Linked DNA regions of Homo sapiens. The protein of the gene in region 2 purifies or fractionates together with the protein of the main gene of each other region. This does not show direct contact. Each region holds a gene or a part of one and is shown on either strand. Other genes may lie near its edges. The genes, in order: P2RY1, EVA1A and PACC1.

Region 1 (3,035 bases), on a different chromosome or scaffold from region 2:
ACTTACCTTCTCAACTGAGGTAAAAAAAAAGGTAATGCTTTAAGCATGCTCCCATTTCATTGTACACCATTTTCACTGTGGCACAATACATTTTTTAACAAACCTGGAAAAAGCAGGTGATGTATGCTAATAAATAGAATCCACAAAGAATTATTAGCGTGGTTACCCTGATTAAAAATTAGATGAGAAAAAATTACAGCCAACATTTTAAACACAGAACACCAGTATGAGAAGCACACATTAAGGTAGCATGAAGTATTTTACAATAAAAAATTAGCTCACATTCCTATTGGCAATTGAATATCAAATATTGATAATTTTACCTATCTTGCACCAGGATTCTACCTTTAACACCGTAGTTTTTAGAGCCCAGTCTTCACCTTAAAAAACAACTGAATTAGTTCAATGTGTTTTACAGTACTTCTCAGTCTGTACATTATTTGTTAAAGTTTGGCAAAACTTGTGAGTATTAACACTGTAATAACATAGAAGCCATCAAACCATGTTTCATAGTTTTATTGAGTCTTTTTCAGTTTTAACTGTCCATGGTAAGTACAGTTCTAGTGACCACAATTATGAAGCTCTGCTCGTACTAAAAATAGCAGATACAAAGTTGGCTGCCATGCCTTACACACACTAAGACACACACACACACACACACACACACACACACACAAGGTTTTGCATACTCTTACATGCAAACAGTACTATGCTATTATAGGAAATGTACTTTCCTTTTATTAAAAATACAATTACACACAATTAGTCTGGGTTTTGTTAAGCTACCACTGATTTAGATAAACCTGAGAAAGCTCAAAATATCAAGTAACACTGTTTCCATACTGCTCATTCAATGGCACTATCACTCAAAAAGAAATCTAGTTCAATCATCTATATTAAAATCACAGATAATATAAAAATAAACATTTTTTGCAATAGCACTAAAACATACTATAATTCAAATTCACAAATTTTGATATGTAACATATATTCACCTTCATATTAATTTGTGATTATGTGTATAATACAATGTACAACAGAATAAAAAACTCTAACAGAATTCAGCAGCCAAATAATATACAATTATCACTATGAAACTTGGAATTTAAGTTATCAACTAAACAAAAAAAAACAGATTAAAATCAATAGCAGTGTTGAACTCGCTGGTAGTGTGTTACTTTAAAATTCCATCTCAAAACAGTTAAGATTATGCTATCTCACCTTAAGAAGAAGCAACACAAAAAATTAAGTAGAACTAAGCAGCAGTAACCGATTATACCAGCTGCCTTTTTCTCTCCCCATCTCCTTAAAGATTTTCCTTACATTGTAACGTTGTTTATATAATGCCCATCCCACTTGACTGCTAAAACATGACAGATCAACTTTAAATGTAGGACAAGACTTTTGCATTTGGAAAGGGAAGCTTTGATCATATTTAGTGACAATACTCTAAACCTCCTGAAAAGACAACAAAAACTTTTATTTAATATATAAAATGTAGACAATACAGACCCCATTTGGCTAAGATATTTTATATTCACTATCGATCTTATGATAGTCTGACACCAAATTGTGTCTATATAGAAAAAAACTTAAATAAAAAGGCAAACATGCAAAAGCACTACTAGGGAAAATTAATCACTTGTATCATGAAACATTTTCATATTTTAGACCAAAAAATGTGAAGACTTAAATATTCCAAGACACTGATATTTGAAAAGCACTGTAATATACAACTCTTATTTATGTATGCATTATATATTTTGTAAAATACACCAGTTTGACACATTAATATCATACATTGTAATAAATATAATTTACATTAGTATGTTGGATCTTTCATGAAAGTTTTTCAGTCTGTACAACTGAAGGACTGTGAGCTTCTTCAATAAATACTTTTACAATAGCTACAACCTGACCAGCAAAGTTTAAGCTTCAATAGATACTAACTAGTATTACATCTTTAAACATTGTCACTAGCCAAATTCCAGCTGCTATAAGCACTGACATCTATAGTATCCAAAGACAGTTTAGTGTCTTGTCTGAGTAGATTGAGACAATTTACAGGTGACAGGTCCACATCATAATCTGTGAAACTTCCAAGATTTTTTTAGCCAAGGAGTGGAATGAAGTCCTGGAAAATACAGTAGCAGATTTCACAGGCTCCTGGCTGTTTAGTTTTCATGCTTTACCATATCCCCCAAGGCCCCAACAATGGATGTCATCCAACTTTTAAATCCATGTGTGTTCTTGAAAGGGTCAACAGTCACATAGCTGGCTGAGCGGCAACATCATGGTTTTAACTCTGAATTCCAACTTGCATGCTGTATTTCTTCTTAGTTTGTCTTTTTGTCATTTCAATGTAAACACAAATTGATGTTCAAAGAGTCAAAGATGCTGATTTGTAAGCAATAAAACACCTTGAATTTGCCATTAAAATATTTTTTGTGGTGTGAAATTTTGTTAGGTAATAAGTTCTATAATGTTAGCAGTTTTTTATCCAAATGCCAACACATTTCTGCCCTTACAATAAACATACTTCAATCATCATATGACCTGATCAGTTTTTCAGCCAATAGAGATCACTGCTTCACCCTGACCCTCTGTACGTTTTCACCATTGGCACACCTTCCCAGAGGCTTCTTTTGGCTTGGAAGGAGTTGGCAAGATCATTCTTGTTACTATGTGGCATGCATTCACATGTCATCAGTGTCCATATGTGATGTATGAAGCTAAAGAAGAAACACTTTGGAAAAAACATGCCAAGTAGTAAACAAGCATTTCTAGTTACTGTTCACCTCCTCACTGGATCCACACTCACAAAATTCTCTGGACGCTGAAACAATGTACTTAACACATACTCTAAATTAAGCTGAGCATCCTGAGACCTAAAAGAAAGAAAACTAAATGGTGAAGAAATATTGTAAAAATGTGTATCATTAGGCTACAAGTTCAAGTCTGGTACAAGTCCTGTAATTTCCATCTTGGTCAGTTTAATGATATTGATCTTGTTTAACAAGGTCAATAAAGTAATG
Region 2 (4,163 bases):
TGTGCGTGAATCTTGGCCCTACCGCTCATTAGCTCCATGACTCTGGGCAAAGTGCTTAGCCTCTCTGTGCCTCTGTTTCTTTGTCTGGAAAAAAGGGCAATACCAGTAGTAACTGTAAAGGACATTATAGGTTTTAAATGAGTAAAAATGTATAAAATGCTAAACTTGAACCATGTCCTGGAATTAGGTAGGCACTCAGTATTAAGATGAATGATTATTATTCCATTAGTTAGTCATACTAGTCTGCAGAGAAGGTACGCTATTTCTTCTTACCAAGAAGACTTTGAGAGACTGATTCAACTTGACCAAGGTCAAGTAATTAACTTTTAACAGAGTTAATAAGCGGCAGAACTGAGATTTGAACGCAAGAAGCCTGACGCCAAAGCCTGAAACCATCACTGTGAGCATCGACGGCACTAAGCTAGATTCTAAGTATGTAAGACCAGGGGAGAGATAAACAAAATACTGCAAGAGATACATATTTATTTTTTAAAAAAAAGGAGGGGAGAGGGGAGGCTGAGGCTGAGGCTGAGGCTTTCCCCCAACCTGGGGCAGGGCAGGGAGCAACAAAATGGTCTGTAGGAACTGAAGAATGATGCTTCACCCAAAAGGAGACTTAACTTCTAGTCTCAAAGATTGATTGCCAGCCAAGGAGGAAGAAGGGCATTCCAAAAAGTCAGGACCTAGAATACCAAAAGAATAGTGGGTTGGGGGAATGTCAGGAACATTGACGAAGTGGCATAAGGTGAGGCCAGTTGTGAAGAGCCATGTGTACAAGGTCGGGGGTTACATTTTATTCTGTAAAGACAGTGATTTTCAAACTTTAACATGCAGAGGAATTACCTTCAGTGCTTGTAAAACACCTGCAGATTCCCAATTCCCATCCCTTCTGCTAGCAATAGGGGACCAACAAGGGTGCTAAGGCAATATAGCCGCATGACCTGCTGTGGATTTGGCAACAGAATTCTGGCACTGGAATGGAGGGAAAGACTGGGACAGAGACTGGTATAATCAGCCAAACTAGAGCAGATAAAAGGATGAGAGCTGGAAATAATGGCACTCTTCATGAAGTGAAACATTAAACCTGGGCTTCTCAACCTCAGCACTATTAACATTTTAGGCTAGATAATTCTTAAATCTTGGAAGCGGAGTGGGGGAGGGGGGAGATGTCTTGTGCAATACAGGATGTGGCAGCATCCCTGGCCTCTACCCACCAGATGAATAAGATCCTCTTCTACTTACATGATGACAGCCAAATATGTCTCCAGACATTGCTGGATGTCACTTGGGAAGTAAAATCAAAATTCCGTTGAAAACCATTACTTTAAGCCCTAGCATCCCTGCTTTACAGATGAGGAAATCCAGCTACAGAAAGGTACAGGAAGGCCCCAGCCAGGATTCAAGCTGGTGGTCTCACTCCAGGGCCCGGGCTCTTAGCCACTGCGCTTGACTGCCTTTATGGAAAGGAGATTCAAGCCAGCCTTCTGAACAGTATTACACATTTCGTGACAGACTGGATGACAAGAAGGGGATGAATTAATAAGATTCAAAGGTGAAACCTCAGTGCTTGCCGCTGAACTCAGAGGACAGTAGATAATAAGTAGTTTGGGTTTGAATATAATCAAGGTATATTAGGTCAAAACGGAAAAAGCCTGGTCCCTTGTACTATGAGAAAGGAGGTGGGGGGGGGGCGGGGGAGTTGGGGGGACGGTTCTTGCTCAGACTAAAAAGAAGAATCTTCTGTAGGGCTGGACTTGAAGTGTATGTGTGGTATAGACCAGCTAGGACCCAAATCCTGGCTGGGCCCTTTCCTAGCTAGCTGTGTGGCCCCATCTCATTTTGCCCGTTTGTAAAATAGGGGTAAGAGTCCCTACACACAGGCTTGTTATGAGAACTCAGGCAGTTAATAAGAACAACATGGCAAGCCAGCACGATGTGGTTGGCACTCCTCTCCTTCCAGGACATCCTCATTTCCTCCATGTCCCAACGCGCTCCGTACTGCGTGCCAACACCTCCCCTTACCCCTCAATAGTAGGGGTGGGGACCCCCACGCAGACCTCCCAGATAGAGCAGCGTGGACTGTCTGCGCGCCCCTCTCCAAAAGCAAAGCGTCCCACTGGGACTTTAGGGGGCGCCAACAGCCTTTCACTCCCTGATGCACTCGGCTTTCGGGGTCCTGGGGGTCGCCAAATGCGCGCGGCGAGTTGGCTGCCTCCGAAACAAACCAGGTAAATAGTCCACGGTGCAGCACGTACATTTCTGGCAGGTCCGCCCCGCGCAGGCTTGGGATAGAAGCCAGTCAGGCTCAGCCCAGCTCCCAGAGGCACAGGAGAGAAGCGCTAGATTTGGGAACGACCTGCTTTCCGAAGCTGGGCTGCAGAGGCAGGGAGTTGAGAGTTGTTCTATCCAGAAAGAAGCAGGGGGGGCGAGAGAAGAAACAGGAAAGTGGGAGGAAGAGGAGGCAAAAAAGAAAGCGCTGGGAAGCAGAGTTCCCTGTGGGACCCAGCCTACAACACCTGGGCAGGGACTTGGGAACAAAGCAGCTGCTTCAGGTCAGAAGTGCTCTGGGTGTTTCCGAAAAGAGGGCGCTTCGGAGAAGCCGGAGCCCGCTGGGGATGCCGGGCGCCCCCAGAGTTCAGGGAGCGCTCTCGGGCACCTCTTACCTTTGCTGGGGCCCCGGCGCGCACTTCCGGGGACTGCGCTTGGGGCGCGCGGGGCCGAGCAGGGGGACCCGGAGCTGATCACTGAGGGGCGGACACGACAAAGCGCTGCCCGGGTCTTGGGCCGGCACCAGTACCTCGGAAAGGAATCCCGGCGGAGGGGCCGCCGGGGTCAGGGCTGGCCTGGGGATGTGGGGTCCCGGCCTGGGTGCTCACGGACGGCGGCGCCAAGCCCCGCAGAAGCTGCAGGAGCCCGAGTCAGTGGGAGGAAAAGGTTGTCTCATTTCCTTCGATCTCCCCCCTCCTCCACCCGCTTGGCTCCGGACCTGCCCTCCCTCTCCCCCGCCCCCTTCTGCAAGCCAGCGGCCCATGTGGGCGCCCGCAAGACGCGAAACCTGAACGGCTGCGGCGTGCGGCACCTCCCTCCGCGCCAAGTTAGTTCACGCTCCCAACTCCTGCCTGCCTCCCCGCGCTGCCGACTGTCCGCAGGACCGGGGAGGTTCCCCATCGGCAGTCCCCAACCTATCCCGGTCCTCCAGGCTTTCCCCCTGCTGGGACGAGCCCAGATTTGAAAGCAGACCTCCAAGCCCCTGCCAGCATCCATCCTCTCATTCCTGTCCCGTCGCCTGCTTTGAGCCTGTATTCAGCTACTCAACTCAGACAGGAAATAACCACTTACTTTGTTAAATTTGATCAACTTTTTTTTTTTTTTTTTTCTGAGTGGGAAGTTAAAGCCTGATGCATAATCTCGAAGGAATGTTCATTTTTATCGGAAGAAATGCAGCTGAGGCCTCTGTTTGGCCTTTCTCTTTCAGGGTTGGGGTTTTGTTTGTTAAAATCAACAAGTATTTTATTGAGAGTGATGGGCGCTCAGCTGGGGGCTGGAAACGCAGAAACAACTAGAGGGACACCCTGTTCCTATACAATCGTCATAGGGGAAGAGTGCAGGGAGAGAACAGGTCCCGGGTTGCGGTGGTCTCTTAAGAGATGGGTCACGGAGTGAAAGAGCCTTCTACAGAATCAAAATAAAAGCTTGGACAGAGGGAAGACGGAATAAGAAAGCCTTCAGGAGGCGGTCTAGCAAAGAGCACAGCCAGGGCAGTGAGTGATGGTGGGGAACAGGGAGGAAAATATTGTGCCAGTCCGTTAGGAAAGGAGAGGAGCTCCTAGAAGCAGTGTGATGGAACTGACAAGATCTGATGACCAAGGGCTTGAAAGGGAGAAGATGAGGAGAGGATGAAGGAGAGAGGTGACTCCCAGGCCTCTGGCTAGAGTAGCCAGTGACCACGTGGATGACTAGAATCCCAGAGTGCCTTCTGGAGCTGCTACTCCAAGTGTGGTCCAGAGACTGGCAGTACTAACACCACATGGAAGCTTTATGGAAATGAAAACCCTCGGGCCGCACTTGAACCACTGGATTAGTATCTGCAGCTTAACAAGATCCCTAGATGATTCAAATGTGCATTAGAATTTGGAAGCACTGGCTGCTAGACCACTGACTGT
Region 3 (3,729 bases), on a different chromosome or scaffold from region 2:
TTTAACTTTGTTTCCAATGTCATTTGTCCTATGGAAACTTTAAATTTAACGTAGTAAAACCTTAAATCCTTTTCTTTACGGCTTTGGGTTTTGCTTGCTGAGGAAAGCCAAAATTATATCAATATTCTCCTCTATTTCTTTATAGCACTTTTTAATCTTTTTTACATTTAGATACTTTATATACCTGGCTTTAAGCTCTGTATATAGTGTGAAATAGGGCTCTAACTCCTACTTCCCAAACAATGCATAGAGACAGGTTTTGAAGCCTCTTCCCCTCCCTCCTTTATCCTATACTAAATTCCATGCAGAACCAATATCTATGTCTGCTTCTGGCCCTAGCAGAGCCCACACATTTGTCTGTCTCTGTCCAGTACTGTGCCACTTTGATTCCTGTGGTTTTTCCACTGTTCTGAGATCTGGGAAGGTGCTCTCCCTACTACTCTTCCCCATCCCCAAACTTGTCTTGGTTATTTTTGAACGTGTTCTAAGTATGCTTTAAGACTAGCTTGCTTAGTTCCACAAAAAAATTCACTGGGACTTTTAACTGTGATAGAAACTGAATTTATAGATTAATTTTAGAAAAAAATGTCTTTTACATCAACTTTTATAAATAAATGCTCTACAGAGATTTGAAAAAGAGTGAGTACACTGTCAGTTACAAAGTTTTGTGCCCCCACATGTATACACACACATACATACTCTAAATTTATTAACTGCACTATTCAATTCTTATCCTTTCTAGTTTTTGTCTATTTGATCTGTGAATTTCTGAGAGGGGTGTTTAAATCGTGCTCTAAAGTGATGGTATTTTTTACTTCTAACGGGTTTTGCTTAAAATATATAAATGTCATGCTGTTTTGTACATAAAGTTTTGGAACTGTTCAGTCGTCTTAGTGGAGAGTATGGAGTTGAACCTCTTATCAATATTAAACATCCTTCTTGCAAACTTTTGCACGTGGAATTCCACACTATTAATATTGTCACTTCTGGTTTTCGTTGCATCTTCTCAAGACAGCTTTGTCCATCTATTTATTTTTCAACCTTTCTGTACCATTTTGTTTTAAGTGTGCAACAGAAAGCACTGTCCCTGGTTTCTATTATCCATTTCTTCCTTTAGTACTAGAATGGCTTTCCCAACCCAGATTTCAGCAGAATCCACTCCCCCTGCTGGAGCCTCATCTCTGCCCTCAAATGTAGCCACGTGATAAAGTTCCTAATGTGCGAAAGAAAAGGGGACTCATTCAACTCCACCCCATTTCCTGAAAAGGGAACTGCTTGCCCTCCACCTTCCCAGGCCTGGGCATGTGCACAGACACACACACACACACTGCACACACACACACACACACACACACACACACACAGCCCACATGGACCAGAACAATGCCCAGGGGACAGCACAGTGACACACACACACACACACACACACACTGCCCACATGGACCAGAACAATGCCCAGGGGACAGCACAGTGACAAGACAAAAGTCATGGCTGGACTATCCTATGAGGCAGTACTGCCCACTACGCCACACGGCCTGCATGCCAGGACTGTTCTCAGAGAGAGAAGGAGGCTTCTCCCTCATCTCAGCCATTGTATTTGCAGGTTTTGTTTTTATTTGGTAGCTTAGCCTATACTCTGACTAATACACAATTTGTTAGCTGACACTGGAGTGTTCTTGTTTTTTTTTTTTGAGACGGTGTCTCGCTCTGTTGCCCAAGCTGGAGTGCACTGGCGTGATCTCGGCTCACTGCAAGCTCCGCCTCCCGGGTTCAGGCGATTCTCCTGTCTTGCCCTCCCAAGTAGCTGGGACTACAGGCACGTGCCACTACACACGCCTGATTTTTTTATTTTTATTTTTAGTAGAGACGGGGTTTCACCATGTTAGCCAGGATGGTCTCGATCTCCTGACCTCGTGATCCACCTGCCTCGGCCTCCCAAAGTGCTGGATTACAGGCATGAGCCACCACGCCCGGCTGGAGTGTTTTATGGTTGCAAAAAAAATCAAAATGAGGGAACAGCCAAACATTTGGGCAGTGGGAAAATGGCGGGCAGTAAGGAAATAGATAAGGATCCCGCAGGCTGGAAAGGTGGCAAACCTTATTGTGCCAGAGCAGAGCATTTGGTAAAAAATAACTACCATTAAATTGAGAGCATGAAAGAAAGCACCAGAAAATCAGCAAAATTCCGAAGATTTTACAAATACAACAGGATGAGACCCTCGACTGGGGTCACTTTCACATGAACTTGATTAGATGCGAACAGCCAGAAGCCTACACATTTCTGAAATCTCACTGCAAACATAGGCAGTGGCAGGAGGCAGGTAAGAAGCCGCCCTCCAAGTTTGCAATTGTTTAGCCCTAAAGCTGCTCACACAAGCAGGAAGTGAGTGGCACAAGCTGTGCAGCCACCAGGGAGGGCGTATTTTCTAATGTCCACTTCAGATATGGCCACAGAGCATTACCACCAAGGCAGAAGCTCCCAGGGGACGAGGCCAGAGCACACAGGAGTCTCTTTCTGAGGGCAGCAACAGGTTCAAACCAAGGAGCTTACTTCATGCCAAGAAGGCGTCTCACCGGTCCCACCCTGCAGGGTTCCACCACTGCTGCAGAGCAGAGCTGCGGGCCCTTCCCCTTCTTCCTTTTCCAAATGGGAGCTCTACTGCTCTCATCATATTCTTCCTCCACTGCTATATGCTGGTTTGGGTAGGAAACTTGGTGGATAGGGAGGAGATAACTTCTCTGTTAGTTTATAGCTTGTGGACTTCAAGAAATTGATGGAGGAGATGAACCAACACTCAGACTTGGGGGCAGTAGCTGCATTCAACTTCATTTCCATAAAAACAACTCTCTCTTTGTGCCCTTATTTCAAGGGTTTTTACACTCTTTAGTCGAATTATGTAACTATTGTAACAAGTGCAACTGGCCTACACAGGTTTGGAAATGACCCTCACTGACTCCTCCTAAGCATACACTTCAACTGGGGGAGGAGAGGAGGGCATCCAGAGAATAGGCACCTAGTGGGACGGAAGCAGCCACGAGTTTTCATTAGCGTGTTTTACAGAGAGATGAAGGGAGCTGGGAATCCAGACAAAGAGCTTCTATTATACATATAACTCCACATTGGAATTGTTTAAAAGTTGCTTTCCTTTTTGTTTTAATTAGCTTCTACTTCCCTATTCTAGAGTCCATTCTATTTGTTCATCTTGGTCCTTTTCTGTCATTGGTTTCATGCAAATGTCTGGTGACCATTAATTCTCCATTCTTATTTATGAATGAAGGATTAGGTTGACTAGTATAGGTCTGGGTTTTGGTTTCTTCCAAAGTAGTAAATTTCTGTTTCTCTAATAGGCCTCTCCCTTGCATGGGAAAGCTAAGTATGCTCTGTGGAAGCACACTGAGTTTTCCAGTGTGTTTTACTCTGGGAAGAGTCCTTTCCTTTAGTTCTCTCTCCTTTTCCATTGTAGAAGTCTGCTCTGTTTCCTATGCCTACACAAAGAATCATCTTCCCTTCGCTTCTGTAGAGAATGGTTCCAGGGTCTTTTACCCAGAGGCAACCATCCCCAGCGGCTCTGCATACCTGGGGAGGGTATAGGGTGTGTCTGGCCCAGCCAACAGGCAGTCCAGTAATGACTACCCTGCTCTCTAACGGTGCTGATTCCAAGCTGGGGGTTTGGAAGGAAAGCTTGTACCTCTACAACAGGTCTCTCCTTCATCTGTTTTGGGTTAGGG

What was found.
Region 1: the proteins of EVA1A (region 2) and P2RY1 purify together in Homo sapiens (co-immunoprecipitation; one large-scale study listed by IntAct). This does not show direct contact.
Region 3: the proteins of EVA1A (region 2) and PACC1 purify together in Homo sapiens (co-immunoprecipitation; one large-scale study listed by IntAct). This does not show direct contact.

The regions. Positions count from the first base shown.
Region 1 is NC_000003.12:152,838,905-152,841,939, reverse strand, and holds the end of P2RY1 (P2Y purinoceptor 1), read right to left. Parts: 3' UTR 501-3,035; downstream 1-500. UniProt on the Homo sapiens protein: Receptor for extracellular adenine nucleotides such as ADP. In platelets, binding to ADP leads to mobilization of intracellular calcium ions via activation of phospholipase C, a change in platelet shape, and ultimately platelet aggregation.
Region 2 is NC_000002.12:75,558,017-75,562,179, forward strand, and holds the start of EVA1A (protein eva-1 homolog A), read right to left. Parts: upstream 2,924-4,163; 5' UTR 2,664-2,923; intron 1-2,663. UniProt on the Homo sapiens protein: Acts as a regulator of programmed cell death, mediating both autophagy and apoptosis.
Region 3 is NC_000001.11:212,380,366-212,384,094, forward strand, and holds part of PACC1 (proton-activated chloride channel), read right to left. Parts: intron 1-3,729. UniProt on the Homo sapiens protein: Chloride channel gated by pH that facilitates the entry of chloride ions into cells upon exposure to extracellular acidic pH. Involved in acidosis-induced cell death by mediating chloride influx and subsequent cell swelling.